4 linked regions of the Homo sapiens genome follow. The protein of the gene in region 1 purifies or fractionates together with the protein of each later gene. This does not show direct contact. Each region holds a gene or a part of one and is shown in the gene's direction. Other genes may lie near its edges. The genes, in order: POLR3D, POLR3H, POLR1D and POLR2H.

Region 1 (6,993 bases):
GACCTGGGTGATTTCCCACAGGGAACTGGGATAAGACAGTGGATGTGTCAGACATGGGACCTTCTCATATCATCAACATCAAAAAAGAGAAGAGAGAGACAGACGAAGAAACTAAACAGATCTTGCGTATGCTGGAGAAGGACGATGTGGGTACCAGGAGGCTGGGGGAAGGGGTTTCCTTGTGGCTGTAGAACAGGGCTTCTGGGGAGCCAGGTGAGGGGTAGAAGAGCTTACTGATGTCCTGGAATCCTGGGGAGCAGCGGAATCTTTGGTTAGAAAGGGACTAAAGCAGACTTTGATCCAGGTGCATGTGCTAGCAGGCTGGATGACCCAGACTCTCTTTGGCAGTTCCTCGATGACCCCGGCCTGAGGAACGACACTCGAAATATGCCTGTGCAGCTGCCGCTGGCTCACTCAGGATGGCTTTTTAAGGAAGAAAATGACGAACCAGATGTTAAACCTTGGCTGGCTGGCCCCAAGGAAGAGGACATGGAGGTGGACATACCTGCTGTGAAAGGTACTCTGTCGGTTAACTTCTCATCTCCAATTCCATGGCTGCTCCCCAGGAATCCCGTGCATCAGGCATCCCTTGCATGTGCCCCTGACTGCTGCTCGTGAGCAGGTCCTCCCATTCCGGCTGTAAGATACATGAGCTGAACAAAGATGCTCCATTCTCCCTCGCAGAGGGTTCCTGTGTTGACAGGGAGCAGTGGGCCTAGCCTCAGATGTCCCTTTTTAGATAAGTCATGTGAGACTTGAACGTGTTGTCTCTTGCCCCTCTGTATAACTGGTGCCTCCTTCCCACTCCCTGGCTGAGTGACAGTGGAGCAGACAGGGGCAAAGGGCTGGTAACAGTGAGCTGGTATGGAGGGTGGTCACTTGATAGCATTCCATGTCTATCACCCGGGCAGTGAAAGAGGAGCCACGAGATGAGGAGGAAGAGGCCAAGATGAAGGCTCCTCCCAAAGCAGCCAGGAAGACTCCAGGCCTCCCGAAGGATGTATCTGTGGCAGAGCTGCTGAGGGAGCTGAGCCTCACCAAGGAAGAGGAACTGCTGTTTCTGCAGCTGCCAGACACCCTCCCTGGCCAGCCACCCACCCAGGACATCAAGCCTATCAAGACAGAGGTGCAGGGCGAGGACGGACAGGTGGTGCTCATCAAGCAGGAGAAAGACCGAGTACGCTCAGACAGAGGCCTGCGGGAATCAAGTCGGGGACTGGGACGGGAAGTGGTGACCTGTAGTGGGAAGCAAAGCCGTGTCACCCTGGCTGAAATGGGACAATAATGGGTGGTTATTCTTGACGCCTGCAAGAGCCATGGGGCTTTGTACCTCCAACCCCAATTGTGTATGTGTTGTGGGGGTGTGTGTTCACTTCTTATAAGGAAATATTTCAAACACAAATGAGAGAACATATGGCCAGATGCGGTGGCTCATGCCTCTAATCCCAGCGCTTTGGGAGGCTGAGACAGGAGGATCACTTGAGCCCAGGAGTTCGAGACTAGCCTGGGCAACGTGGTGACACCATGGCTAATACAAAAATTAGCCAGGCATGGTGGCGTGTGCCTGTAGTCCCCGCTACTTGGGAGGCTGAGGCGGGGGAATGGCTTGAGTCCAGGAGGCAGAGGTTGCAGTAAGCCTAGATCATGCCACTATACCCCAACCTTGGCGACAGAGTCAGACCTTGTCTCAAAAAAATAAGAGAACGTAAACCGCCATGTACCAGAACTCAGCTTCAGCAGTAACTGATATTTTGTCCGTGTATGTATTTGTTTGCTGTGGGTTTTGTATTTTAACCATAGCAGACAGCCCTAGGAGAAGGCACTCTTTGGGGAGCTCATTTTGACCTTTGCTGTGCCTTTCTCTTGGGGAGTAGAAGGGGGTTCATGAAAGATGGAGGAAAGAGCTCCTAGCCCAGTGTCCATCCTCTGGTTTTCTCCGCAGGAAGCCAAATTGGCAGAGAATGCTTGTACCCTGGCTGACCTGACAGAGGGTCAGGTTGGCAAGCTACTCATCCGCAAGTCTGGAAGGGTGCAACTCCTCTTGGGCAAGGTGACTCTGGACGTGACCATGGGAACTGCCTGCTCCTTCCTGCAGGTAAGAGCCTCCTTAGGGGCAAGGAGGGACCCTTTCAGGAGTGAAGGAGGATTGAAGAGCCACTGCTAAATAAGGGAGGGGGTTTCTGGGAGTATCATGTCCCCATTCACAGCTCTACACGCCGGGCACGTGGTGGTGGTTCTCATCACTGTCTCTGTTAATTGGCAGGAGCTGGTGTCCGTGGGCCTTGGAGACAGTAGGACAGGGGAGATGACAGTCCTGGGACACGTGAAGCACAAACTTGTATGTTCCCCTGATTTTGAATCCCTCTTGGATCACAAACACCGGTAAAATGAGCAGGTGGAGGAGGACGGCGCCTGTGCCCACGGCTGCTGCCTGCTCCAGACATTTTGTTCTTGAATCTGTGAGACCCAGAAGGGGCCCACTGAGCCCACTCACTCCAGCCTTTGGCAACCATTGTTCCAGGTCCCCCAGGGCTTCCTCCCACAGCAGCTGTGAATGGCACAGTGACCTTCCTGCAGCGTGGAGATGGCACATCCTTGCTGCTGGGGACTTGGCCCTGCTATTTATTTTTGTATTTATGTCTTAATCTCTTCCACTGATGCATCCTCCAAGGGTAGATGGGGAGGGTCTGTGTGAAGGGGCCGGCTTCTCTTGGTGCCTGCTGGGTTGCAGGGGCAGGAAGCGTGTGGACTGCAGCTTCTGCTGGTGCTCCCCCCGTCCTCCTGGAGGCAGTATAGGAGAGAGAGCAAGGATTGAGTCTGAGACTTAAGCACTCGGTCCCAGCTTGCCAGTTCCTGGTTCTGTGTCCTTGGACAAACTACCTAACCTTTCTGAGCCTCCTATACCTCATCCGACACAAATGGGGATGATACCTACCTCCAGGGTTGGCGTGAGGATTCATGGGCTATTATAGATGAAAACTGCACAAGGCCAGAACCAGCAGGCACTCAATAAACGTTCATGTCCTTTTTCTCTACCTGAGTCTATTTTCAAACAAAATAGAGATTCTAAATCTCCCAGAAGCAGCGACTAGAGCTGCTCCCGTCCCCACTCTTGCCCCTTCCTGCTTTATATCCCGTCCTCACCCTGGGCCTGATGCCCTAAATTTATGGTGTCAGATTGTTCTATGCCTTTTTCTCCTGGCTCCTGTTAGCCAGGTGCCTCCTGTGTGAGTTACTGTAATAGCTGCAGGTAATAGAAAGGAAGAAGTCAGAGACCCCTCCCAGCACCCTACAAAAGCCTTTGGGGGACATGTTGGGCCCAGGACATGTTCCCTGCACTCTTTCCTTTGCAGTTAGTACTCATGTATGAGCCGAAGTCATATATTGCTAACAAAAAAACTAAATCCTTCATAAGAGAAGTTAGGGATGTATTGAATAATGGCCTCTTTGACACTTGGCCGATGATGCCCACTTCAAAAACTTTGGGTTTCAGAGGCCTGCCCGTCTCCTGTCCTAGCACTGCCAGAGCCACCTACTCAGTGTTACTTTTTTGGGTCTGTGATCCTGTTCCCTTTACCAGGTCATTGTACTGTGTTGTCCCTGGAGGAACAGCTTCTCCTCTTGTCTTGACAGTAGGGCTGGGGTTTTCCCTGGTTCAGCTGGGGAGACGTTTGCAGGTTAGAAAAAGGTCTCATGCGGCAGCGTGTGTGGCTGTTAGACGCTGATGGCACAACTTCCCTTTGCTGGCGTCGTGGCACCTGGCCTCTGGGACAGTATGAACCATAGGGGCTCAGGAAGAACCGCTTCCCCTCCACCCCCATCCCTGATTCCTAGTGGCCCCTTAGATTTTGGGTACATCTTCCTTCAGGCTCACCTTCCTTCTTTTCAAAGTTCCTCAAGCCTGTTACTCATTTGTCAAGGCTGGGCTTCTCCTACAAAGCCCTCAACCTGCCCAGCCAGCAGCTGTGAGGCTGACTGAATATTTGGTGACCATATCACCCTTTCTGGTGCTGAAGCTCATGTCAGCTCCATTGGACAGTGTTATTCTGGGCTCTTCTCACTGTAGAGGACTGGAGCAGAAAGGGTTCCTTGGAAACCTGTGCTGGGAAGCCCTGTTTGGTCTAAGGCTAAGCTTTGGTTAACTCTGGGCTCCAGCCCTTTCTTCCTTTAAATAGCTGATGCACGGCCAGCAGGTCTCCATTCTCATCCTCTCTTTCTATTCTGTTTCTTTGGTTCAGAAATACTCTTCTGCTTTTTTTGGACGAACTCAATGGCCCGATGTTAGATATTGGGTATTTTTCAATCTTCTGTTTTCTGACCCTTCCAAGAAAGTTTGAGGAAGAACATGTACTGCTTTCACGTTCATTTCGCCCATTCAGATGTCTTGGCTTGAACCTTATGACTCCGTATCAAAGTCCTCACAACCTGTCTCAGATCCCTGATGCACAAATTAGGTCTTATTAATAAGTGTGGGAAAAGAGAGGAGAGTCCACCTTCTTGGTCAGGCCCCTGAGGCATGCATTTCTACCAAGGAATATGGACAGATGACAGAGGAGAAGAGCCCAAAGCCAAATTTATACATGAGTGCAAGTGGATGCAAATTTGTTGCTCCCTGCATCTGTGTATATGCTTTCTGTTAAATACAGAAAGAAGGAACAATAGGCTTGCACACTTTTCTAACTACATGTTTAAGTGGCAGAGTCCAGGCTGTCGAGTCACGGTTGGGTTTGAATCTGACTCCACCAGTAACTTTGGTTGGAAAAAATCACTTATCCTCTTTAAGCTTGATTTTATTTATTTTATTTTATGTAAGAGTGAGACAGTAGTAGCTTAATAGGGTTGCTTTTAAATTAGAGTGAACATGAGGCATTTATTCGGTGCCAGACAGATAACTGCCTATAACAGGATGTGATCAGCACAAGTAACAGAAAATTAGCCTGACGGTGGCTTAAGCAATGGGAATGTTTATCTCACATAGCAAAAAGTCTGTAAATAGATGGTTCTAGAGTTGGGTGGAAGCCAAAATGTCATCAGGATTTCCTTGGAACCGTCTGCTTTGCCATCCTCAGTATTGCAGAATGGCTGCTCCTGCGCCAAGCATCATTCTGCAAATGATGGTGTCCACAGCCAGAGTGGACAGTAGTACAGGAGCCTTCTCATTCTGCCCTTATCCGGGAATAACCGTCAGCAGCTCCAGCAACCTCCCCCCTGTCTCTTTATAGAGTGGGGCCACGTGCCCACTCTTGGACCAGGCCCTGGCAAAGGGGGATGGGTCGACTAGTGTATCCCCTGGCACTGAGCACACTTGCCCTTGAGCTGGGGTTTTGTTAGTAGGGAGGAAGCTGGAGTGGCAGTTGGATAGACAATTCATAGTAGCTGCTGCCATGTTCAAAAAATGCTGCAATGTAAAATCATAAAGTATTCATCTAGGCATAACTTTTTAAAATATTCAGTCACCTTTTATTCTACTAAAATCAATTTTAACATTTTAGTGTATATTATTTTATTTTAGATTCAGCAGGTACATGAGCATGTTAGTTTTGTTTTGTTTTGTTTTGTTCTGTTTTGTTTTTTGAGATGGAGTCTCACTCTGTCGCCCAGTGGTGTGATCTTGGCTTACTGCAACTCTGTCTCCCAGGTTCAAGTGATCCTCCCGCCTCAGCCCCCCAGATAGCTGGGATTACAGGCACATGCCACCACACCTGGCTAATTTTTGTATTTTTAGTAGAGACGGGAGTTTCACCATGTTGGCCAGGCTGGTCTCAAACTCCTCACCTCAAGTGATCTACCTGCCTCAGCCTCCCAAGTGCTGGGATTACAGGCGTGAGCCACTGCGCCCAGCCACATGTGCGTGTTTGTGTATATTGCGTACTGGTGGGGATTGGGCTTCTGTCATACCTATCACCCAAATAGTGAACATTGTACTCAGGTAGCATTTCAACCCTTGCCCCCCCTCCCACTCACCCCCTTTTGGAGTGCCCAGTGTTTGCTATTTCCATCTTTATGTCCATAGGTACCCATTATTTAGCTCCCACTTATAAGTGAGAACATGTGCTATTTGATTTTCTGTTTCCGAGGTTAGGATAATTACCTCAAGCTCCATCCATGTGGCTGCAAAGCACATGATTTCATTGTATTTTATGACTGCTCATGTATATTATTTCAGCCTCCAAAATTTTGTATGTTATTTATAATGATATAAATTATGTGGTTTTATCGTGTACTCTATCTCACTCAGAAATACATACAATTCTTCGTTCCCAGCTACTCTGGAGCTGAGGTGGGAGGATCACTTGAGCCCAGGAGTTCAAGACCAGCCTGGGCAACATGGTGAAACCTTGTCTCTGAAAAATAAATAATACACACCCACATGCACACACATCCAGTTCTTCCATGTTAATGAGTATGTTGTGTTTCACATACTTCTGAATTAGCCGAAGGAATTAAAGGTAGCATCTTTTAATCCTCAGACTGCCCTGCGTGGTCCGATTGAATTGGGCAGTCAGCACTAGGCTCTTCAAAGGGAAACAGGCTTCTTTCTTAGGACGGTGCACAGTGAAAGAGTGGCACACACGCTGTTCATCCAGTGCTCCAACCCCCAGTCCTGGTGTCAGATACTTCTACATTTGGGGCATTTCCCCTTGAGATGGCTGTGGCTAGCGACACATGATGTGAACACCTCTCTTGGATTGTGGTTCGGCCGCACAAGGCCCCATCAGAGTTCTACAGGTGGAGTGTGGGGCCCAGAAGGGGCTCAGGTCTTAGGGGTGTCATCTGAAAAAACAGAGATGGTGATGGGACACCAGTTCTAGGAGCCCTCTGCATGGCCACTTTCTGCCTCAGCTCTTCTAAAGCATTTCTTCTGTTCCCTTCCATTGGGGTAACCACTGATCTGTCTTCCCAAAAACTGAGTCAGAAGTTGGACTTTGTTACTTGGCTCATCTACATTTAAGATATAGTCAGAAAAAAAATGCAGTCTTTACATCTTAAGAA
Region 2 (6,840 bases), on another chromosome or scaffold:
TGGGCTGTTCTCACGTTGCTATAAAGAAATACCTGGGCCTGGCGTGGTGGCTCACGCCTGTAATCCCAGCACTTTGGGAGGCCGAGGCAGGCAGATCACCTGAGGTCATGAGTTTGAGACAAGCCTGGTCAACATGGTGAAACCCCGTGTCTACTAAAACTACAAAAATTAGCCAGTCGTGGTGGCATGTGCCTATACTCTCAGCCACTCAGGAGGCTGAGGCAGGAGAATCGCTTGAACTCAGGAGGCGGAGGTTGCGGTGAGCTGAGATGGCACCTCTGCACTCCAACCTGGGTGACACGCACAAAAAAAAAAAGAAAGAAAAAAGAAATACCTGGCTGGTAGTGGTGGCTCATGCCTGTAATCCCAGCACTTTGGGAGGCCGAAGCTGAGGATCACTTGAGGTCAAGAGTTTCAGACCAGCCTGGCCAACATGGCAAAACCTTGTCTCTACTGAAAGTACCAAAATTATCCAGGTGTGGTGGTGCACGCCTGTAATCCCAGCTAGTCTGGAGGCTGAGGCAGAAGAATCGCTTGAAATGGGGAGGTGGAGGTTGCAGTGAGCCCTGATAGCGCCACTGCACTCCAGCCTGGGCAACAGAGCTGGTTAATTTATAAAGAAAATAGGCTGGCTGGGCACGGTGGCTCACGCCTGTAATCCCAGCACTTTGGGAGCCCAAGGCGGGTGGATCATGAGGTGAGGAGATCGAGGCCATCCTGACTAACACGGTGAAACCTCATCTCTACTAAAAATACAAAAAACTAGCTGGGCGTGGTAGCGGGTGCCTGTAGTCCTAGCTACTTGGGAGGCTGAGGCAGGAGAATGGCATGAACCCGGGAGGTGGAGCTTGCAGTGAGCCGAGATCATGCCACTGCACTCCAGCCTGGGCGACAGAGCAAGAATCCGTCTCAAAAAAAAAAAAATAGGTTTAGTTGGCTCATGGTTCCACAGGCTTTACAGCAAGCATGGTACTGGCATAGGCTCAGCTTCCAGGGATGCCTCGGGAAGCTTCCCATGATATCGGAAATCAAAGGAGGAGCAGGCACATCACATGGGGAAAAGAGGAGCAAGAGAGAGAGTGGGAGGAGGGAGGTGCTACACACTTTTTTTTTCAAGATGGAGTTTTGCTCTTGTTGCCGAAGCTGGAGTACAATAGCGCGATCTCTGCTCACCAGAACCGCCACCTCCTGGGTTCAAGCGATTCTTCTGCCTCAGCCTTCCTGAGTAGCTGGGATTACAGGCATGCGCCACCACGCCCGGCTAATTTTGTATTTAGTAGAGACGGGGTTTCTCCATGTTGGTCAGGCTGGTCTTGAACTCCTGACCTCAGGTGATCCGCCCACCTTGGCCTCCCAAAGTGCTGGGATTACAGGCATGAGCCACACGCCTGGCCACCACACACTTTTTTTTTTTGAGACGGAGTCTCACTTTGTCGCCAGGCTGGAGTGCAGTGGTGTGATCTCAGCTCACTGCAACCTCTGCCTCCCGGGTTCAAGTGATTCTTCTGCCTCAGCCTCCCAAGTAGCTGGGACCACAGGCGCGTGCCACCACGCCCGGCTACTTTTTTTTTTTTTTTTTTTTTTTTGTATTTTTAGTAGAGACAGAGTTTCACCGTGTTAGCCAGGATAGTCTCAATCTCCTGACCTTGTGATCCACCCACCTCGGCCTCCCAAAGTGATGGGATTACAGGTGTGAACCACCACGCCTGGCCCCGCCACATACTTTTAAATGACCAGATATTGGCTAGTCACGGTGGCTCATGCCTGTAATCTCAGCACTTTGAGAGGCCAAGATGGGGGGGATCACCTGAGGTCAGGAGTTCGAAACCAGCCTGGCCAACATGGTGAAATCTTATCTAAAAATACAAAAGTTAGCTAAGTGTGGTGGTGGGCACCTGTAATTCCAGCTATTTGGGAAGCTGAGGCAGGAGAATCGCTTGAACCCAGGAGGTGGAGGTTGCATTGAGCTGAGATCATGCCACTGCACTCCAGTCTGGGCGACAGAGCAAGATTCCGTCTCAAAAGAAAAAAAAAAGAAAAGGCCTGAACCGAAGCAATAGCAGTGGGAGTGGAATGAAGAGGAAACATTTGAGAGGAAGAATTAATGGTAATCCCTAAACACCTTTACTCAATGCTTCCTAGGAATGTGTTAGGGGATTGTGGGAATAAAGAGCTGAAGTAGCATTTGCTGCTGTCCTCAAGTACCTCAAATCCTATAGAAGCACACCTAAAAATAAAATCATAGATGCAGGGAAGGCCACATTTAGCATCACTGCAGCCAGTGTCACTGAGAGATCACTATGCTTGTGAAATCAGCAAATTAAGGCACCATACATTTCCAAGTGCCTCTGTCATTTACCCCAAGTATCTTTTGTAAGTACCTAAATTGTTATTTTGGTTAAAACACACTACAAGCCCGGGCGCGGTGGCTCACACCTGTAATCCCAGCACTTTGGAAGGCTGAGGTGGGCAGATCATGAGGTCAGGAGATCGAGACCATCCTGGCTAACACGGTGAAACCTCGTCTCTACTAAAAAAAAATACGAAAAATTAGCCAGGCGTGATGGTGGGCGCCTGTAGTCTCAGCTACTCGGGAGGCTAAGGCAGGAGAATGGCGTGAACCCGAGAGGCGGAGCTTGCAGTGAGCCAAGATCGCGCCACTGCACTCCAGCCTGGGCGACAGAGCGATCCTCCGTCTCAAACAAACAAACAAACAAAAAAACCCACTACAGTATACATCTACACCCCACCAATTTTTAGAGGCAGGGTAGTGAGGTTCAGACTGGGCCCACCTCTACCACTTGTCAACACGTGATCTTGGGTAAGCTACCAAATTCTCTTAGCCCATGCTATCACGTGAAGATGAATGAGACTGGAATGTCAGCGAGACAGAGCATGATGGGGCTATAGGAGGGGGGTATGGTCAGATCTTGCAGGGCCGTGTGAACTACCATAAAGGTTTTGGACTTTTCTTCTTTCTTTCTTCTTTTCTTTCTTCTTTCCCTTTTCTTTCTTCTTTCTTCTTCTTCTTCTCCTTCTTCTTTCTTCTTCTTCCGCCTCTCCTTCTTCTTCTTTTTCGTTTAGACATGAGGTGTCACTGTCACCCATGCTAGAGTGCAGCATGCAACCTCAAACTGCAACCTCAAACTCCTGGACTCAAGCGATGCTGCTGTCTCAGGCTTCTGAGTAGGTGGGACTACGGGTGTACACCACCACGCCCGGCTTGGATCTAGTATTCTAAGTTCAATGGGTTGTGTTTTTTGTTCCAATTTATTATAACTTTTCAATTGGAACATAATGTCTACAAATAAATGCAAAAATCTTGCCGAGTTCAATTAGTTTGGACAATTATATACGTCAATGTTATACCACCGAAAACAAAATACAGAACATTTCCATCATCTCAGAACAGTCCCAAGTGCCCCTTTCCTGCTAATTCTCCTTGTCTCCGGAACACTTAAGGGTGCTAAGCATGTTATGTTTGCGGTGGGTTTTTTTTTTAACTTAGATGTGGTAATATATGTTTGCGTTTCCAAAGGATCACTCTGGCTGCCGAGCAGAGGACAGCAATGCGGGTAAAGCACAGGCCAGGCGAGGGATAATCAGGCGGGATTGCACGGAGGTCGCCTAGCAACAGAAAGCGCTGTCGGGGGCGGGGGAACCGCTCTGCTCCTGTGAAAGGAGGAGGCCCCGCCCTCTCCTCGCCCTCTCTCTGCCCCACGCTGTGCGCGAGCACACAGGCAGCCCCGCCCCGCCTCGGCGGGGTGGGGGTGGACAGAGGTTTCTTATTGGTGAGTTTTCCGGAAGCGATGGATTCGGAATCTCGCCCGCAGTCGCGCAAGCGCGAGCGGCTGTGCGCGGTGCGTGGTGCGTGGTGCGTGATACGAGCGGCGGCACGTGGCGCGGGTGCGGGGCGTGGAGTGGCGTGGCGTGGAGTGGCGTGGCGTGGCGGGGTCTCGCGGCGCGGGCGCGCACCCGGAGCTGTGGACGGAGAGTGCCTCCCTCTGGCCTCAGTTTCCTCATGTTGTAGTAGCGGAGCATGGCCCGGACCGGGCCCCCGAGACCGCCCCGTGCAACCTCACCGCCAGCCTGGGGGCCTCAGCGACTGGGACGGGACCAAGGGGCTCGGGGATTCTCCCTGCCCCCGGCCCTGGTGCGTGACTGACCCTCCTGTTCCCAGAGCCCCCAGCGCAGGCCGGGATGTTCGTCCTGGTGGAAATGGTGGACACCGTCCGGATCCCCCCTTGGCAGTTTGAGAGGAAGCTCAACGACTCCATTGCCGAGGAGCTGAACAAGAAGTTGGCCAACAAGGTACTGGGCCCACGGCTCGCGGGCAGGCCTTGGCGTGGGAGAGCGAGCGCCGCCCACTGGCCGCAGGCCCGGCCTCGGTCATGCCAAGCCCTGGCCGTGGGCAAGCAGCTTAATGTCTCAGAACTTTTCTTCACCGTGAAAGGAGATATTGAAGGGGATCAAAAGAAAATGGGCTTGAAAAAGGGAGTTGTAACTGGAAGTGTTAGATTCCACAATTCTAAATTACTTTGCAATTGCAGGCAAGTTACTGACCCCTTCTGGGCCTCAGTTTCCATTTTTAAAATGGGGATAAAATATTGCTGTCCTTCCAGCCATGCATTGTTTTTGTTGTTGTTGTTGTTTGTTTTGTTTTGTTTTGTTTTTTGTTTTTGAGACGGAGTCTTGCTCTTTCGTCCAGGCTGGAGTGCAGTGGCGCGATCTCGGCTCACTGCAACCTCCGCCTCCCGGGTTCAAGCGATTCTCCTGCCCCAGCCTCCCGAGTAGCTGGGACAACTACAGGCGCGCGCCACCACCCCCAGCTAATTTTTGTATTTTTCGTAGAGACGGGGTTTCACCATTTTGGCCAGGATGGTCTCGATCTCTTGATCCCCCCGCCTCGGCCTCCCAAAGTGCTGGGATTACAGGTGTGCGCCATCGCCTCGGGTCAATGCATTGTTTTCGTGAAGATGGAGAGTTCTAGTAGTACAGAATTAACTGTCAGGAGGTTCATCCCTTCATTCCAGCAGCCAATATTTGTGCGCCTTCTCTGTGCTGTGCCTGTGTGCCTTAGTACCAGCTGAGAGGTCTTCCCACTGCCGTTTCTTTGACAGTCCTCCCTTTCCAGGTATTCTGTGTCACATCACTCTCTTTCCTTCTTAGACTTTTTCCTTTCCCTCTCCTTGAGAGCAGGGACCTTATCTGCCTTCTTCCCTGAAGTATCCCCTCATTTAGCCAAAGCCTGGCGGGAGTAGATGTCCCATAATTTTCTGTTTTGTGTTTGTGTGTGTGAGACAAGAGTGCCGCTCTTGTCGCCCAGGCTGGGGTGCAATGAAGCGATCTTGGCTCACTGCAACCTCCACCTCCCAGGTTCAAGCTATTCTTCTGCTTCAGCCTCCTGAGTAGCTGGGATTACAGGCACCTGCCACCACACCTGGCTAATTTTTGTACTTTTAGTAGAGACGGGGTTTCACCATGTTGGCCAGGCTGGTCTCAAACTTCTGACCTCAGGTGATCTGCCTGCCTCAGCCTCCCAAAGTGCTGGAATTACAGGTGTGAGCCACCGTGCCCGGCCATTTGTTGACTGAATGAATGAAACAGAGACAAGGCTCTGTGCTATAGTGTGGTGGGAAAGCAGATATGAATGAGAAGGGTCCACAGTTGAGTGTTTGGTGACAAATTGAGGTAAATGTTATGAGGGACAGGTGTTCACACACCTGTGGAACAAAGGAACGTCCCCTGGAATGAGGGGACCTGCAGCTTTGTTGAGGAGGTGGGGTTGAAGGTGAGATCTGATGGTGAAGTGGAGCCAACCAGAGGATTCCTTTCTAGGGTGGGAGGGGGCTGGGTGGAGAGAAGAGCCCTGAAGGCAGGAACTGGCATGTGCAAAGGCCCTGTGAAGAAGGAATACAGGCCGGGCGTGGGGGCTCACACCTGTAATCCCACCACTTTGGGAGGCTGAGGCGGGTGGATCACCCAAGGTCAGGAGTTTGAGACCAGCCTGTCCAACATGGTGAAGCCCCATGTCTACTAAAAATACAAAAAATAGCTGGGCATGGTGGCAGGCACCTGTAATCCCGGCTACTTGGGAGGCAGAGGGAGAAGAATCACTTGAACCCAGGAGGCAGAGGTTGCAGTGAGCTGAAATCGCACCACTGCCTTCCAGCCTGGGTGACAAGAGTGAAACTTCGCTTCAAAAAAAAAAGAAGAAGGGGTAAAATACCCACCATGGTGTGGAAGAGGCTGGTGTGGCTTGGGCAGAGGGGAGGGTGGGCTGGACAGGTGGGTGGGGGCCAGGCCACACAGCCCTGTAGGATGTCGGAGTTGAGGTATTGGTCTTTATCCGTGGAGCATCAGAAGGTGATGGGCTGAGAAGGAGCCAGAAAGAGGATGCTTAGCTGGCTTTACGCATGAGACAGGTCCCTTCAGAAGAGGTGAGGTTGATTTGGGGGTTGCTAGATAGTGAAGGGAACTCATGGAGTCTTTAAGTGGATGGCTTCTGGTTACTTTGTGAGGTTGAAGATGAGGGTCTGTTGGGGGATGGAGGTGTGGACCTTGAGAGAGAAGGTGTGGAAAGTCCAAGAAGGGAATATAGTCCCTTTGGGGTAGAGGTCCTGTTGGGACAAGTCTTCTAGTATTTGATTAGATGAATCGTTTGAGAGGGGGCCCACACAGAAATCCATGGTCTGACAAAGGGCACAGATCTTGTGGCATTATCTTGGTGAGGTCTGGCCACGACTCTGAGTTCTCTGAGCTTCTTGCTAATTCTTGGACAGTTCTTGCAAGGGTTCTAAGTGGGGGTGATGACACGGTGGCAGATAAGGAGACACTGAG
Region 3 (6,113 bases), on another chromosome or scaffold:
ACTGCTCCTTCTCATATCCTCCAACATTCCACTAGCTCATTAATGTCATCATCTAAAGGAACAACTAATATTTACTGAGCACTTGGAATGTGCTAGGTACCCTGCCAAAGGCATTACATGCATAATTCCTCAAACCCTACTCAACAGGTACGACAATCATTTCCCAAATGTTAGGAAATCAAAGTTCTGTCAGGATAGTTATTCTAAGGGTAAGTAATAGAATTAGAATTTGACCCGTTTTAATTTCACAGCCAGCTTACCCAGTACATGTCAATCAATGCCTGAAGTCAAACAACCCAGGATTCATCCTTCCCTCCTTAAGCCTACCCAGTCACTTACCTAGTCCAGCCTCCTAGTCATACCTCTTAAACACCACGTCATTTCTCCTTCCACTGCCAGCACACTAGCATTTACTAAGTCCTTACTATCTGGCAATCACTATTCTAAGTAATAGACATGTTTTTTCAAGTTCTATCCCCCAAACTCTGAGATGACAAACCTAAGGAACAAAGAGGTTTCAGTGTATGACAGAGCCTGATTCCACCCCAGGTAATCTGAATAGAGAATCCCTGAGCACTTAACCCCTCCATTAGAACAGCCTCCAACTTAGTCTCCATATCGCCCATCTGGAAGCCCACCATCCTCCAGACGCTGCAGATATCTTTCTGGAATGCTTACCCGTTATCATGACATTCTCCTGCTTAAAATTAGCAGCTCAGTATCACTGACTGGATAAAGTCCAAATTTCTTAATCTGGTATAAAAAATCCTTCATTTTTCTGTTCAAGTCAATTCAGTAAATATTTTAGTGCCCAATGTAAGCAAGAAAAGGTGCCAAGTGTTCTGAAATGAATAATACATGTCCCTGACTACTACCTCCACCTCGGACACTGGGTCCTTCGGCCAGACAAGCCCATATGCAAAGCTCGTAATACAACAGCCCAAAGACACATACATTTATTTTTAAGTGGCCTGCGTGCTACGTGCCTACAATGTACGAAATCCCAAACCAATCTGAAGACTAAGTGCCTACGTAACACCTATTCTTACAGGTCTCCAGGCAGAAATGCTCCCTAAGTTCAAATTACTTCAGGGTAACTAGTGGGATAAAGGCATGGATCAGTTTCCAAATGAGAAAACTGGGCAAGAAGCAACCCCCGCCATCAATGGCTGGCATGCAGTAGGTACTTTATCAGTGGCTAAATGAATAAATAATGAAAAAATTTCAAAGTTGATGAGAGAAACAAGATATATGGAGAATGTAACACACAAGTGGGCCGAATTAAAAGTGATGTTATTCTACTTTGGTTCTCATTTGGCCTACTTTTACCCCATGGGAAAACTCACATGTGGGACTCGGACAAGCTAAAAAGCCAAAACTTTGTTATTCATGGCTCAACAAAGCTTTGACAAGCCAAAAAGGATACCAGATTCCCGCTTCCTTCTTTACCTGCCAAAGTCCATTTTCTAAAGAGGTGTGGGGGTGGGAATCAAATCTAGCAAAGTAAATAAAATTGATCTACTGAGATCCAACTTCATTAGTGCTGCATCGAAGTACATGCAAAAGAAATATCAAAACCTGTCCTGGGAAGAAGGCCAATTTACAAGTAAGTACTATTGCCGCAAGAATGTGAAATTCTTAAAGGCAGTTCCAATAAGCTGGAGCTCACAAGTGTTCCTCCTCCTGCACCGCCACCGCTTTTCACTCAACTTTGTTTCTGATTTCTGTGATTTTAAAAAGCATAATATACACAGCAAAGCCCATGCATAAGTGTACTTTAGCTCCTGGTACAAACGAACGTCTGGATTCATAAACTTAACGTAAACTGAAATACTAAAAGAAACACTACATGAGTCAAAAGTCCTTGTTTAAAACGTGGCATACAGCTTTGAAAAGCGAGTGATGTATTTCCTGAATGATGCTTTGTGTGCAACTGCTTCCAAATCAAGATTCATATTTTTAAATTACCCCCTGGAAGATGTCAAATCTCTCTCCCACCCTCTCCAGCCTAAAGAGAAAGGTGAGAATTCACAGGCAACAGGCTGGGGCGGAGGGAATGATCTCTCCCCATCCCTTTCCAGAGAACAAAACCCGATAAAGGCAGCTAGTGCCACTCTCATTGCCGACACCACACACACACAGAGGAAATTTAAACACTCACCCCACCTCTCCCTTCCCTTAAGAAGCAAACGACGCCAAGCTCTGCACCACGGTGGCCGGAACCAGCAAACGCTAACAGCCGGAGGCCGCCCGCCTCCCGGGCGCCTGCAGGCGGCGGGCACCGGGCGCCGACTCTCCCTCCTGGACCAGACCCACACCCGAGTCCACGCCAGCCCCGCAGCCCGGGCGAGCGAAGACAGCCGCGAAGGACCAAGGCTCCGGGGCGAGCTGTGGCGCCGCTCCGGCCGCCTCCCGGGGCGCGGCGCTGACCCACACCCAGCTGACGCCCGCACCTGAGGCGGCTGCCCGCAGCCAGCGAGAGGGCGCGCAGCGAGGCGGGCAGGGCAAAGTTACTCACTGGGAAAGCGCGGCTGCCCGGGCCGCGCACGGGCTCCTGGCGCCGCTGCTCGGCACCAGCTCCCGCTCTCCGCGGCCCGCTGAGGGAGCGGAGAGCCTGCCCGGCTCCGCTCCGCCAGGAATCGCCGCCGCCGCCGCCGCCGCCGCGGATTTCCTGGCAAAAAGCAAACTCCGGCCAAGACTTCACTTCTCAACCGCCCCTGCTGCCTTCCCGGGGGCAGCGCCAAGGCCGAGCGGCCCAACCCGCACCCGGGCCAATCGGAGGTAGCACAGGGCGGGAGGTGGGCGGACCAGAGGGCGGCTCCACCTATCCGAGAGCTCGGGAGGCGGGCCAGAAGGGACCCGTCACTCCCGGGTTAGAGTGAGACCACTCCGCCCTCGCCGCCCGCCTCCCCCACTCGCCCCGGGCTGTCCCCGCCGCCCGCCTGATTCCCCTGCGGAAGCCCCGCTGGCTAGGTGTCTGCGCGCACCCCCGGCCGCCGCCAAGAGTGGCACAGCTGGGGAAGGAGTGAACATCCAGAGGAATCGCGGGGCGGGGTGGGGGGAGGCCAGGAGAACAGGTGGCGCAGGGAAGCAGAAACGTAGTTGCGCTGGACAGCTGGAGTCGGGCAGGGTCGGGGCCAGCGGCGAGGGGACAAGAAGGGCCGATTCGAGAGGAAGCGCACCTGAGGGAGCACAGCGAAGGCCGGGACGCAGGGAGCTGGATGGAGAGCGAGCCTGGGCGGCGAAAGGTTGCCGAGGCGGGGGCTGGGCGCCTGGGAACAAAGGTGAGGGCGGGTTCCGCAGGTGAGGAGGTTTGAGGAGCCACTGGGGAGAAAGGGAAAAGGAAGTCTACAGCCGGAGAGGACGCGCTCTGGGGGTAGAAGGAATCCTAGGACGGAAAGGATAAGGTGGGAAACAGTTTTCTCCCAAACTCTCACTCCCCCAAAAGAGACATTTCTTTCTTGCCCTATTTTGACCCAGTTGAAAATGCAACTGCAAGCTCCCCGGTGAAACAAATACCGCCTTCAACCTTCGTATTCTGTGGTGACTCATCTCGCACGTGACCCCCCTCCCTCTTCAAGGTGTGTTGACCGACTACAGTTTAAGCCTGTCGTCCCACAAAAGGCCCGGGAGGGCCGGGGTCCCAGGAAGGGCCATCCTGGGTCAACACCGCCCCAGTTGGGAAGTCGGGCCGCTTTCGGACTTGCCACTGGGAAGGGAAGTGATTTGGGGGCGGCAGGTAAGGCCGCGCCCCTTCGCCATCACCTGGGGAAAGGTACCAGAGTTGAGCCGGGGCGCCCGCAGGCCTGTCTGGGCCTCGGGGTAAGGCGGCGCTGGCCCCGCCCCCTGCCCCTCCCGCCGCGAGTGGCCTCGCGTGGTCGCCCAGGTGAGCCGCGGGGCCGCGAGCCACCGCTCACCCCGCGTCGGGGCGGGGGCTGGGGGTGGAGCCTCATGCCCCGCCCCGCGGCTGGGCCCTGCCGCGCCGCTGCGGCTCCTCCTCCCTCCTTCCGTCCTCCGCGCCTTCCGTCGGTCGGTCCTTGCTTCCTGCTTCGCCTCCGCGCCTCGCGCTATGGGACAGAGCCCCCGATCCGCCAGCACCACCTGAGGATCCAGAAACCGCCCCAGCGATGGAAGAGGATCAGGAGCTGGAGAGGTAACGGCCGAGGAGGAGGCGGGCGGAGCGGGCCGCGCCCAAGGGGAGCGGGTGGCCGAGGGGCACGCTGCCTGGCCTGGCAGCCGGGGCCTGACTCGGGGCGCAGAGAAGAAGCATGGAGAGAGAAGTGGGGAGGAGACATGAATGTGTTTCAGTTGAGAGGCTGAGAGGTACACTAGCTATCAAGGAGGGAAGACAAGTTGGGAGACCAGAGTTAAGTATCCGAACTGCCCACCCCCGTTACAACAGCAGTGTGTAAAAATCACGCCCCGGGCCTCTGCTCCTGAGGACGGTACTCGTGCCTCTGTCCCTGTAACTACGGCTCACCTTCTTTCTATGTGCAGACTGCTCCTAAAGCCACTCTGTGCGCTGAGCTCTTTTTCTCCCTGCTGCTTGACTCCTGAACCTTCCATTCTCCTAGTTTCCTTCTCTTGCAAAATGGAAGCCGTAGTTGGGCCTGCACATTGATCATCTGTATCCTCTATTTTTATACTAGAGCAATCGGGATTTCTATGCCTTTCAACCCTCTCTTCATCCTCTAGCAGGACCAGTCCTATTCTAATCCTATCCCTTGCTTGTGACTCTACCAAAAAATATTTTTGCAAACACTTAAGTTTGTGTTTTTCTAAGAAAACTCCCCTTGTGGCCAGTGTGGATGGTCAAATGGAGCAGGGAAAAACTGGAGGCAATAAATTAAATATTTATTGATAGAGTTTGTGGAGGCAGGAAAATGAGAGGCGAATAATTCTGTGTAGCTGGAGTAGATTAATAATAATGTGTTGCAATGTGATATAGTAAATGAGAAAAAGCTAGTTACAAAACAATATTCAGTATGATCTCATTTTTATAAAAAATATGTGTGTAGAAAAATATCTGGATTGAAGACCTCAATGGCTGAAGGCGAGAGGAAGACAGCCCTGGAAATGGTCCAGGCAGCTGGAACAGATAGACACTGTGTGACATTTGTATTGCACGAGGAAGACCATACCCTAGGAAATTCTCTACGTTACATGATCATGAAGAACCCGGAAGTGGAATTTTGTGGTTACACTACGACCCATCCTTCAGAGAGCAAAATTAATTTACGCATTCAGACTCGAGGTACCCTTCCAGCTGTTGAGCCATTTCAGAGAGGCCTGAATGAGCTCATGAATGTCTGCCAACATGTGCTTGACAAGTTTGAGGCCAGCATAAAGGACTATAAGGATCAAAAAGCAAGCAGAAATGAATCCACATTCTAGTCCTTTATGCAGTATACAAGGAGAACTGTCCTGTAGGATATTCTCTTCCTGATGGTGCAGAACCCAGAATTAGAAGTTTGTGGTTACAGCATACTCTGTCCTTCAGAAAGGCGTGATTCTAGCTGTTGACCCCTTGCAGCTGTTGGAATCTCTGCAAGAACCTCTGTATTCTTCTAATAAATTCCCTCTTTTATTTAAACTAGTTTGACTGGTTTCTGTTCCATGCAACCAAATGGTCCTTGAGGATGACTTTTTTTCTAATTAAGCCAGCATTGAAAATGAGGAAACTGAGAATATCAGAGGCCTAGACAAGAACTGTGATCATGGGAATTAAAAGAAGTATATATCCATGTCTGTAGTTGGAGTGGTGGGGGTAAGGGAAGAGACAAAAACCATGACCCCAGTTAGATTGTTGTTTAAAAACAGAAGGAAAGAAGATTGGGGTGGGGACTTGGCTTCTTGCTAAACTTTTTGGCTTTTAAAGAATTGCATCATTTGCTGTGATTGGTAGACTTGGCAAGGGTGGGAATAATTTGGAAGAAGTGTGAGAATTCTGGTTTTACATGAGAGTTTTAGGGAGTAAGGCTCCATCTTTGAGGCATTTACAGGAAAGATACCAGTTTACTGCTTGAATTTTGGGATATACTTAGTCATGATCTAAGTAAGGTAAGATGTTTTGATTATATTACAGAAGGAGAAAATTGGGATGACTAGAAAAC
Region 4 (7,862 bases), on another chromosome or scaffold:
CAGTCAGCCTGGAAAACACTGCTGGCTGATTTCTCAGTGAAGTGCCTGTTTTGACTGGGCCATTCTCTCCCCATCACTGTCCCCTGACCTACTGTGGCCCTTATACAACTCAAAGCAGCCTGGAGAGGAGCCGAGAGCCACTCACTTCCTCATGAGGAAGCGATTGATGGTTTTCTGCTTCCGCATCACCTGGACAATCTTCCGGTTCAGGTAGACAAAGAGGGCTCCACCGAAGCCACTAGCAATACTGGAAAGGGAAGAGGCACCTGAGTGAAAAGGAGCCTTCTAGAAACCCCCCTCCTCTCTGATACCCCCAGCCCCCTCAGCTCCTCACCCAATGACAGCAAAGGCTGGCAGCTCCTGCAGGTCAAAGGGGAAGTCGAGCCGGAATCGGGTTTTGAAGAGGGCTGTAATAGTCTCTAAAGGGAAGAACAGCAGAGGGAGGCAGGCCTAGCCTCGTGGGCCCCCTACCTGGCACCATCTCGGGCTGCCCTCATCCCCTGGGTGCCCCCACCTTCATCCCGGTTCCAGACTGCCAAGACCCGGAAGATGAAGGCACTGAAGGTGGCAGCGAAGAAGCCCCGCCAGTAGTTCCGCACTGCAAAGAAGGTGGAGGTGACCTCGATGCTGAAGAGGACGCCTGTGAGGGGGAGGGAGACCAGCACTTGAGGCCTGGGCCTGGCCTAAGGCCTCAGACCCAGATAAGAGGGGCCAAGGAGGAGAGGCCAAGGGCAGGGTTGTGGGGCTGGACTGACCTAGGAGCCCTGCCTACCTCCAATAGGTGCCGCGAAGCAGCAGCCCACCCCCACGGCACAGGCGGCAGCCAGCATCTCTGTGTTCCGGGATTCATTCTGGCGAGAGTGGTGGCAAGAGGGGGTCAGCTGTGGGCTCAGCAGCCTCTGCCCCCTACTTGCCCCAGGGTTCCCCTTACCTCATAGATACCCCCAAAGAGGGAGAGGAACTTGCTGAGAAGGGCAGCACACATGCTTGCGATATGCACAAAAGGGCCCTGCGGGGTGGGGCAGGCGGTGAGTCGGGAGGGGGCCCGCCCTGACCTTGGCCTGGCCTCCTCTTCCACCAGGAGGGACTCCTTCATTCCCCAGCCTGCAGTTACCTCTTTGCCAAGCGGCATCCCGCTGCCTAGGGCGCAGGTCAGCCCAATGACCTTAGCTATAAAGGTCTTGAGTGTGAGGTATTCTTTCAGCACCACTCCCCGCAAGATGGTCTTCATCTCAGGGATGCCAGAGCCTGGAGAGGGAACAGTCTCAGGAGAGGCATTCGATGCACCCATTTCAGGGGTCCCGCCTCTGCCCTCCCCTTCTCTTCTAACATACCGACAGCCTGAGGGGCCAGGATCTGTGTGAATCCGGCTGAGAAAGTGATGAGGACAACAGGGTAGGTGACCCAGGCCAGGTACTGGAGCAAGATGCTGGTGTTCAAGCCCCGGGACATCCACTGCTGGGCTGTGGGAAGAGGACCTGCTGGACCCCCAGTGCACACACCCACTGCCTGCCTGGCCAGTGGACCACGCTGATACGACAGGCTGTCCCAGGGAGTACCACACAGAGTCAGGGCATGGGTGAAGGAAAGGGTCCCTGAGGGTATTCACTGGGACAAAGCGCAATCTAGGCAAGAGGATCACTTGGAGAGGGGATGCAAGAAGCTGTGCCCTGTGGGAGTGGCCGAGATGATGCCTGAATCTGGGCAGTCAGACTGGCTGGGGAAAGTGGTCAGTGGCCAAGAAGCCAAGACGCCTTCCTCCATGTCTAGACGAGTGTGGCATGGACGCAGGAGGTTTATTCCCAGTCCTCCCCCTGCCAGCTGTCACCCTCACCTTGCAGACAGGCAGCAATGGCATAGTCCATGACCCAGCTGACCAATGCCATGAGAAGCCCCAGCAGGACCAGGAAGATCCAATCTTCACCAACCCTGGATACTAGGAACTTGTGGCAGCGGACAGAACAGACTGGGTGCAGGGAAGGGAAGAAGGGGGAGGATGGCACCAAAGTGCTCCTACCCCTTTTACTGCCCCCTCAACTGTCCCCTCTCCCCCATCAGCAGCTCTAATGGCCTCTGCTTCCCTCAGCACAGCACAGCCAGGTCCCCTGCCCCCACCCCAGTTCTCACCGCGGCATCGGGCGCAACGGCTCCGTCCATATTCCAAGAGCTCTGGGGCAGCCCGAGAGGAAGGGGGACCTTTCCAGGGTTCAGGCCCTCCCAGGCGAATCCGAGCAGCTTCCTCTTTGGCAAAGGCCCCAAGGTCCTGAGTGTACCGGCCATACATCTGGAGCAACAGAGGGGATGGGGGCATTCGAGGTCATGGGCTGAGTGGGAACGCAGGGAGAGTTCTTAGAGCCTCCACTCCTCTTCTCCCAGCCCCCACACTGGATATCCCTCTTGAACGCACAGTTCCCACTCTGGCCCGAGGTGTGGGAACAATGCACATTGCAGACTGTGGAGGCTGTCCTGGCCAGAGTGATGGGGACAGCCAAGGTACAGGGACACAGCTCTGGGGGTGGCAGAATAATCGGTCCTCTTCTCACAGGCCTGGGGCTGGGGCACTGAAGAGGAGTGAGAGGGAAGCCCCAGAAGAGGAAAAGGTGGAAAAACCTGTGGCACAGTCTAAAAGTGGGAGGCGGGAAGGCCAGGGAGTAAGGGATGATCAGGGGCACATGGGCAACAATAAGAGCCTCGTGGAGCTCGGGGCAGCTGAGTTGGGCCCAGGAGCAGGCGCAGCCCCAATCCTTATCACGTTCCTGCTGGGCCTCCGGCCTGTGACCAACTCAGCTGCACCTCTCCCACCCACCCTAATCCCCTTGTCCCCATTCTCCACTGCCACCCCCACCAGCCTGCCAGCCCAGCTGGGAGTGGAAAGCCTCTCACTTAGGGTGGGTGGAGAGGGCTTGGTGGCCTCAGCCCCATTCTGGAGCTGCACTGAGCCCAGCGGTGGGTTGGGGGACAGCGGAGGCTGAGGATGGCTGGGCTGTGACTGTGGATGCTGGGGTGATGGGACGGGAGAGTCGCCTGAACCATGGCTAGACCTGCCAAGCTGGGCGTGTGTTGGGGGGCGGGGAGGAGTAGATTCTGGCTGCCACCCGCAGAGCTTCGGGACACAAAGGGCTCCTGTTGGGGCTGGGATGGGGGGGAGGGAGGGAGGGAAAGATAGAGACAGAGAGAGGGTGAGAGATAGGAAAGGGAAAGCAAAGAGAAGAGAGGGAACTAGAGAGGAGAAAGTAGAAGAGAAAAGAGAGGGAAGGCGAAGGGATGGAGAAGAGAAAGAAGGGGATGAGAGAGGAAGAAGTACGGAGGAGGAAGAGAATGGAGAGTATTAAGAGGCAAGCACGGTGTAGGAGGAGGGAGGTGAGAGTGGGAGAGAAAGACAAAGGGATAGGATGGTGAAGGGGGGCGGGAGCAGGCTGGAGCACAGAGTGCCCGGGACAGAGCTCGACCCTGAGAGCTCATTCCAGAGACAGCTGGAAGGGACGGAGATGGAGAGGTGGCTGGTGTTAAGAGGCACCATTTCAGAGGCCAGGTGCCTGGCTTCCTTGACCATGCTCCTATCCTGGTCTGGGCAGATTGGCAAGTGTCTCCTACCCCATCCCAAGGGTTGGCCCCTCTACCCTTGCTCTACTCCCACCTCTCCCTGACATCCTGATTCATCCAGCTACTTTCTCCTAACTGGGCACCTCCCAGACTTATAGCCTCTCCTCTCCAAGACGTTCCCTCCCTGCCACCTTCCTGGGCAAATTCCAGCCCAAGCTGGTAAAAAGGAACCACGGGCCCCTTCCTTTCCCTAGGGCTTGGGTCTTCCACCCCAGTGACATGAGGAGGGTCACGTGGCTTCTCAAACACCAAGTAACAATGGGGGCGATAAGTCAGCTCAGAGCCCAGGACCCCTGCTTCTAATGAGGTCAGGGGACACACCCTGGGGTGGGTGGGGGCTGGATACCCCGCATCAGCATAGACAAAGGTCCCAATTCCCACACCCATTCCTGCTTCACCCACCCTCCCTAAAGCTCCTGTCCCCCAGAGTGGCAAGCCACCTTTTTCCAGAGTCAACTGAGGGGCTCCTGGAGCCAACGCTGGGTGTGGAGCCTCCAGAGGTAGGGTCTGGGGCTGACCATCTTTCTACACACTCGATTCTATGCTTAGCATGGTGCCATGCACATGGCAGGGACACAGAGAATGTCTTGGGTGGTGGAGATAGTGGCGTAGAGAAAGTTCAATGGTGTGAATGGTGCCGCGGAAGGGGCAGTGGGGTGCTGAGACTTGGGCCCAGGTGGTGAAGGGGAGGTGCAAAGAAAACGTGCATGTTGTGGGGTGAGGGGAAGGACACCTGAGACAAGTACCTGGTGTCCTTGTCCTCTGCAGGCCCTCAGCCTCAGCCAGAAACCAGCATGCAGTTTTCCATCCCTTCGGCCCTGCAGCCTCAGACTTCCAAGCCTCAGTTTCCCCAGCTCAAAATGCTAGGACAGGATTAGGGTAGGCCCCTGGTCCTCGCGCTTCCCAGGGTAACCTGGAGCAGGGGTCCCGGAGCGCACTCCTGGGGCTCAGCTCAGCTTCACTTACCAGGGTCTGCTCGTACTGCAGCGCCCGTGGCTCCATCCCTTCCTCCGCCGCCGCGGCCGCCATCTCCGCGCACTGCCCTCTCGCCTCCCTCGGCGGTTCCGGCTCTGTCCTGGACTCGGCTCCCGGCCCGCAAAGTCCGCGCCGGCAGCCGTCCCGTCCCCGCAGCCCGGGAGGCCGAGAGCAGAGTGCGGCGGGCCCCCGGCGGGCGCCGCTGGCGCAGCCTCCCGCTCGCGTCCCCTCCCCGGCGGGCGGGCCGAGGGCGGTGCCCTCTGCGCTGCTCCGCCCGCCGGCCCATCCGGAGGGGACGGCCCAGCCAGGCTGGGGTCCGCGCGGGGCCTCCCGAGAGGCGGCAAGGGGCGCTGGGAAGGCGCAAGCCCGCGCCGGCTCCCTGCGGATGCCCGGGTCGGAGAGGGGCGCCCGGGAGGGGCGGGTCTACTGGCACGTGGAGGGGCCGGCCCGGGTTCGCGGTTCCCCGTGCCCAGGCAGGAGGGGCTGCAGACGCCTGAGCTCCGTAGGGGTTGGGGCTGGGGGCTGCGGAGCTGTCTACATCGGACTCCTCCGGGTCAGCCCGTTAGGAGCCGCCTCCCCTCTGCCCCTCCGAAGAGACGAGCGGCCCAGACAGGCCTGGGAAGGCCCCTCTGCCCCGTCAGGGGTGAAAAGCAAAGCTGGAAGGATTCGGAGAGGGTTGGGGCCGTCTTCCTCATCCTTCCTTTTCTCGGGGCTCCCGTGGGTAGGTGCACTTGGAGCAACCGGGCCTGCGGGGTGTGCGGGGGTGGAGGTTGGGGAGGGCACCGGAAGGGGTAGGCCGGAGGGAAGGGAGCTCCAGGTGCCGGGAAGTCTACTCCTGGGACGCGGGCGTGGGTCGCTTCTCCCTGGCTGGGCCCAAGGAGGAACCCAAGTCGCTGCTTCCATCCCTCCGCTTTGGGGGAACTGCCTGCTGGTGTTCTGGGTTCTCTATCAGGGGCTGGGGAAGGATAGAACAGAGGGCGGAGCGCGCGCAGGGTGGATGGGCAGCGTAGAGATAGTGTGAGAGGAGCGAGGGCAGCGCCCAGGAAACGCACAAGTGTGCGGGAGAGCCAGCACCAGGAGTAAGGGGCATTTGGGAGGCAGAGGCGGGGCTCAGGGGGCGGGAGCAGTGCCCGGGAAGGGGGGGCCTTGTGATAGAAGCCAGCACTCAGGAGGAAGGGCCAGTGTGAGGGAAGAGCTGGTATCCAAGGGACAGGGCAGTGCCAGGCTGAAGGGGCACGGAGGGGATCCGTGTCCAGGAGAAGGCAGTGGAGGGGGAACGCGCAGCACTAAGCTGGAGGGGTAATGCCCGGGGGAGGGGGGTGGCGGGAGCCCGGCTGAAGGGGCGGTGTAGGGGAAGAGAGCAGGGCCTGGGGGGAAGAGGGAGGGCAGTGGTGGGAGGGTGCAGTACGAGAGGAGGGGACAATGCAGGCTTTCCTCTTCTCCATAGCGACGTCATGGCAAATTCCCAAACTGGACGGATCCGGCTCGGGTTACGTCCAGCAGGGCCGAGCCGGCCCAGGCCGGCCCCGGGGTCCTCGGTGCCGGCTGGAGGGGCTGGGCACCTCTGGGGCGGGGTTCTGCTCCACCTGCCCTCGGCGCGGACTGTGCCCTCGGCGGGCACGCGGACCGGCGGGGTAGGGCTAGGGCCCGGCTTCTCTGGGCCAAGGATCAAGGTCCCTGCCTGGGTTAGGCCCCCACGCATTCCAGTCTTCGGAACCCGGCCTCTGAAGAGGGCGCAGTAGGGCCCCAGCGGAGCGCGAGAACCCGCTCTACAGCCTATTGCTTCCCCGCCCTGGGCAGAGCCACCTGGACATGAGACCCGCCCTCAATGCCGAAGCCTCTCGGAAGCAATCTTTCGGGACGGAAGTTAAGTAGCCCCGAGCGGGAGGCTGTGGCGGAAGTGGTCGCGTTACCGCTTGTTTGTGCGCATGCGCCACTCTCGTCTGGCCGCCGCGCTTTCAGGAGGTGCTTTTGGTTCTCTCCGGTCTTGTCCACGCTAGGGGGTGCACGTACTCCCAACTGTGGTCGCGCTCTCACCCCTTCTGCTGCTCTCGTGGCCCCCTCGCGATGGCGGGCATCCTGTTTGAGGATATTTTCGATGTGAAGGATATTGACCCGGAGGGCAAGAAGTTTGACCGAGGTAAGTAAGGTATGTAGGGGCGGTTTGGAGGAAGAGGCTAACCTCGCGGACATGCCCCTGGGCCCCGTGTCCACCCAGCTCTTGTGGCCTGCCCCTACCAGCAGGTCCTGGTGTAGGGACCTCCCTCAGTAAACATTTTATGGATGAGAAAACGGAGACTCCCGAGCTCTCTCTGGCTTCACGCATGCCGTGCCCGGTGCCTGGGTGGCCTTTTGTCATGGTGCTGGCAAACTCCTAGGCATATTTATAATCGCTACCTGCTCTGTGCTAGACACTGTCTTGTGAGACCAGCCTGGCCAACATGGTGAAACCCCGTCTCTACCAAAAATACAAAAATTAGCCTGGCGTGGTGGCGGGCGCCTGTAATCCCAGCTACTTGGGAGGCTAAGGCAGGAGAATTGCCTGAACCTGGGAGGCGGAGGTTGCAGTGAGCCAAGATCGCGCCACTGCACGCCAGCCTGGGCGGCAGAGCGAGACTCCGTCTCAAAAAAATGACAGTCCTCATGAGGTGGGTGGTGCCTTTCCCATTTTTCTCTGAGAGGTTGAGTAAACCACCCAAGGCTTCACAGCGAGTAATCTGACTTCAGAGCCTATATTCTTGTATTGCCCTCAGAATCTTTAGCGCTTTGTGAAGTCTTCTTTGAGTTAGAGTTAGCTGCTTGGTATATACCTTTTTTTTTTTGAGACGCAGCCTTTCTCTGTTGCCCAGGCTGGAGTGTAGTGGCACGATTTTAGCTCACCACAACCTCCGTCTCCCGGGTTCAAGCGATTCTCTGCCTCAACCTCCCAAGTAGCTGGGATTACAGGCATGCGCCACCACGCCTGGCTAATTTTGTATTTTTAGTAGAGACAGGGTTTCACCGTGTTGGCCAGGCTGGTCTCAAACTCCTGATCTCAAATGATCCACCTGCCTCGGCCTCCCAAAATGTCGGGATTACAGGCATGAGCCACTGCACCGGCCTACACCTCTTTATTTTGTCATCTATCAATAATTTTCTCTTTGATGTCTCTTTCTTTGCCTGGAGACTAAGATGTTTTTCAAGACGGATACCAGTTCTTATACATCTTGGTCACTCCCCTCAGCACAGTGCCTAGCATAGAAAGAGAAAACCTTTGGATGATTGAATAACTTGCCCAGAGTCAG

The links.
Region 2: the proteins of POLR3D (region 1) and POLR3H purify together in Homo sapiens (affinity purification with mass spectrometry; 8 studies listed by BioGRID and IntAct, with this or other methods). This does not show direct contact.
Region 3: the proteins of POLR3D (region 1) and POLR1D purify together in Homo sapiens (affinity purification with mass spectrometry; 8 studies listed by BioGRID and IntAct, with this or other methods). This does not show direct contact.
Region 4: the proteins of POLR3D (region 1) and POLR2H purify together in Homo sapiens (affinity purification with mass spectrometry; 4 studies listed by BioGRID and IntAct, with this or other methods). This does not show direct contact.

What each region holds. Positions count from the first base shown.
Region 1 is NC_000008.11:22,248,133-22,255,125, forward strand, and holds the end of POLR3D (DNA-directed RNA polymerase III subunit RPC4), read left to right. Parts: intron 1-21; coding exon 22-146; intron 147-348; coding exon 349-517; intron 518-911; coding exon 912-1,177; intron 1,178-1,942; coding exon 1,943-2,095; intron 2,096-2,263; coding exon 2,264-2,386; 3' UTR 2,387-6,469; downstream 6,470-6,993. UniProt on the Homo sapiens protein: DNA-dependent RNA polymerase catalyzes the transcription of DNA into RNA using the four ribonucleoside triphosphates as substrates.
Region 2 is NC_000022.11:41,541,462-41,548,301, reverse strand, and holds the start of POLR3H (DNA-directed RNA polymerase III subunit RPC8), read left to right. Parts: upstream 1-3,831; 5' UTR 3,832-4,200; coding exon 4,201-4,311; intron 4,312-6,840.
Region 3 is NC_000013.11:27,617,857-27,623,969, forward strand, and holds POLR1D (DNA-directed RNA polymerases I and III subunit RPAC2), read left to right. Parts: upstream 1-4,035; 5' UTR 4,036-4,127; coding exon 4,128-4,153; intron 4,154-5,018; coding exon 5,019-5,394; 3' UTR 5,395-5,593; downstream 5,594-6,113.
Region 4 is NC_000003.12:184,356,848-184,364,709, forward strand, and holds the start of POLR2H (DNA-directed RNA polymerases I, II, and III subunit RPABC3), read left to right. Parts: upstream 1-4,862; 5' UTR 4,863-5,299; intron 5,300-5,393; exon of another isoform or gene 5,394-5,657; intron 5,658-5,758; exon of another isoform or gene 5,759-5,877; intron 5,878-6,025; 5' UTR 6,026-6,645; coding exon 6,646-6,718; exon of another isoform or gene 6,719-6,727; intron 6,728-7,862. Other genes in the region: CLCN2 (chloride channel protein 2), read right to left, coding at 146-247, 335-419, 515-640, 773-851, 932-1,009, 1,115-1,248, 1,335-1,463, 1,835-1,966 and 2 more. UniProt on the Homo sapiens protein: DNA-dependent RNA polymerase catalyzes the transcription of DNA into RNA using the four ribonucleoside triphosphates as substrates.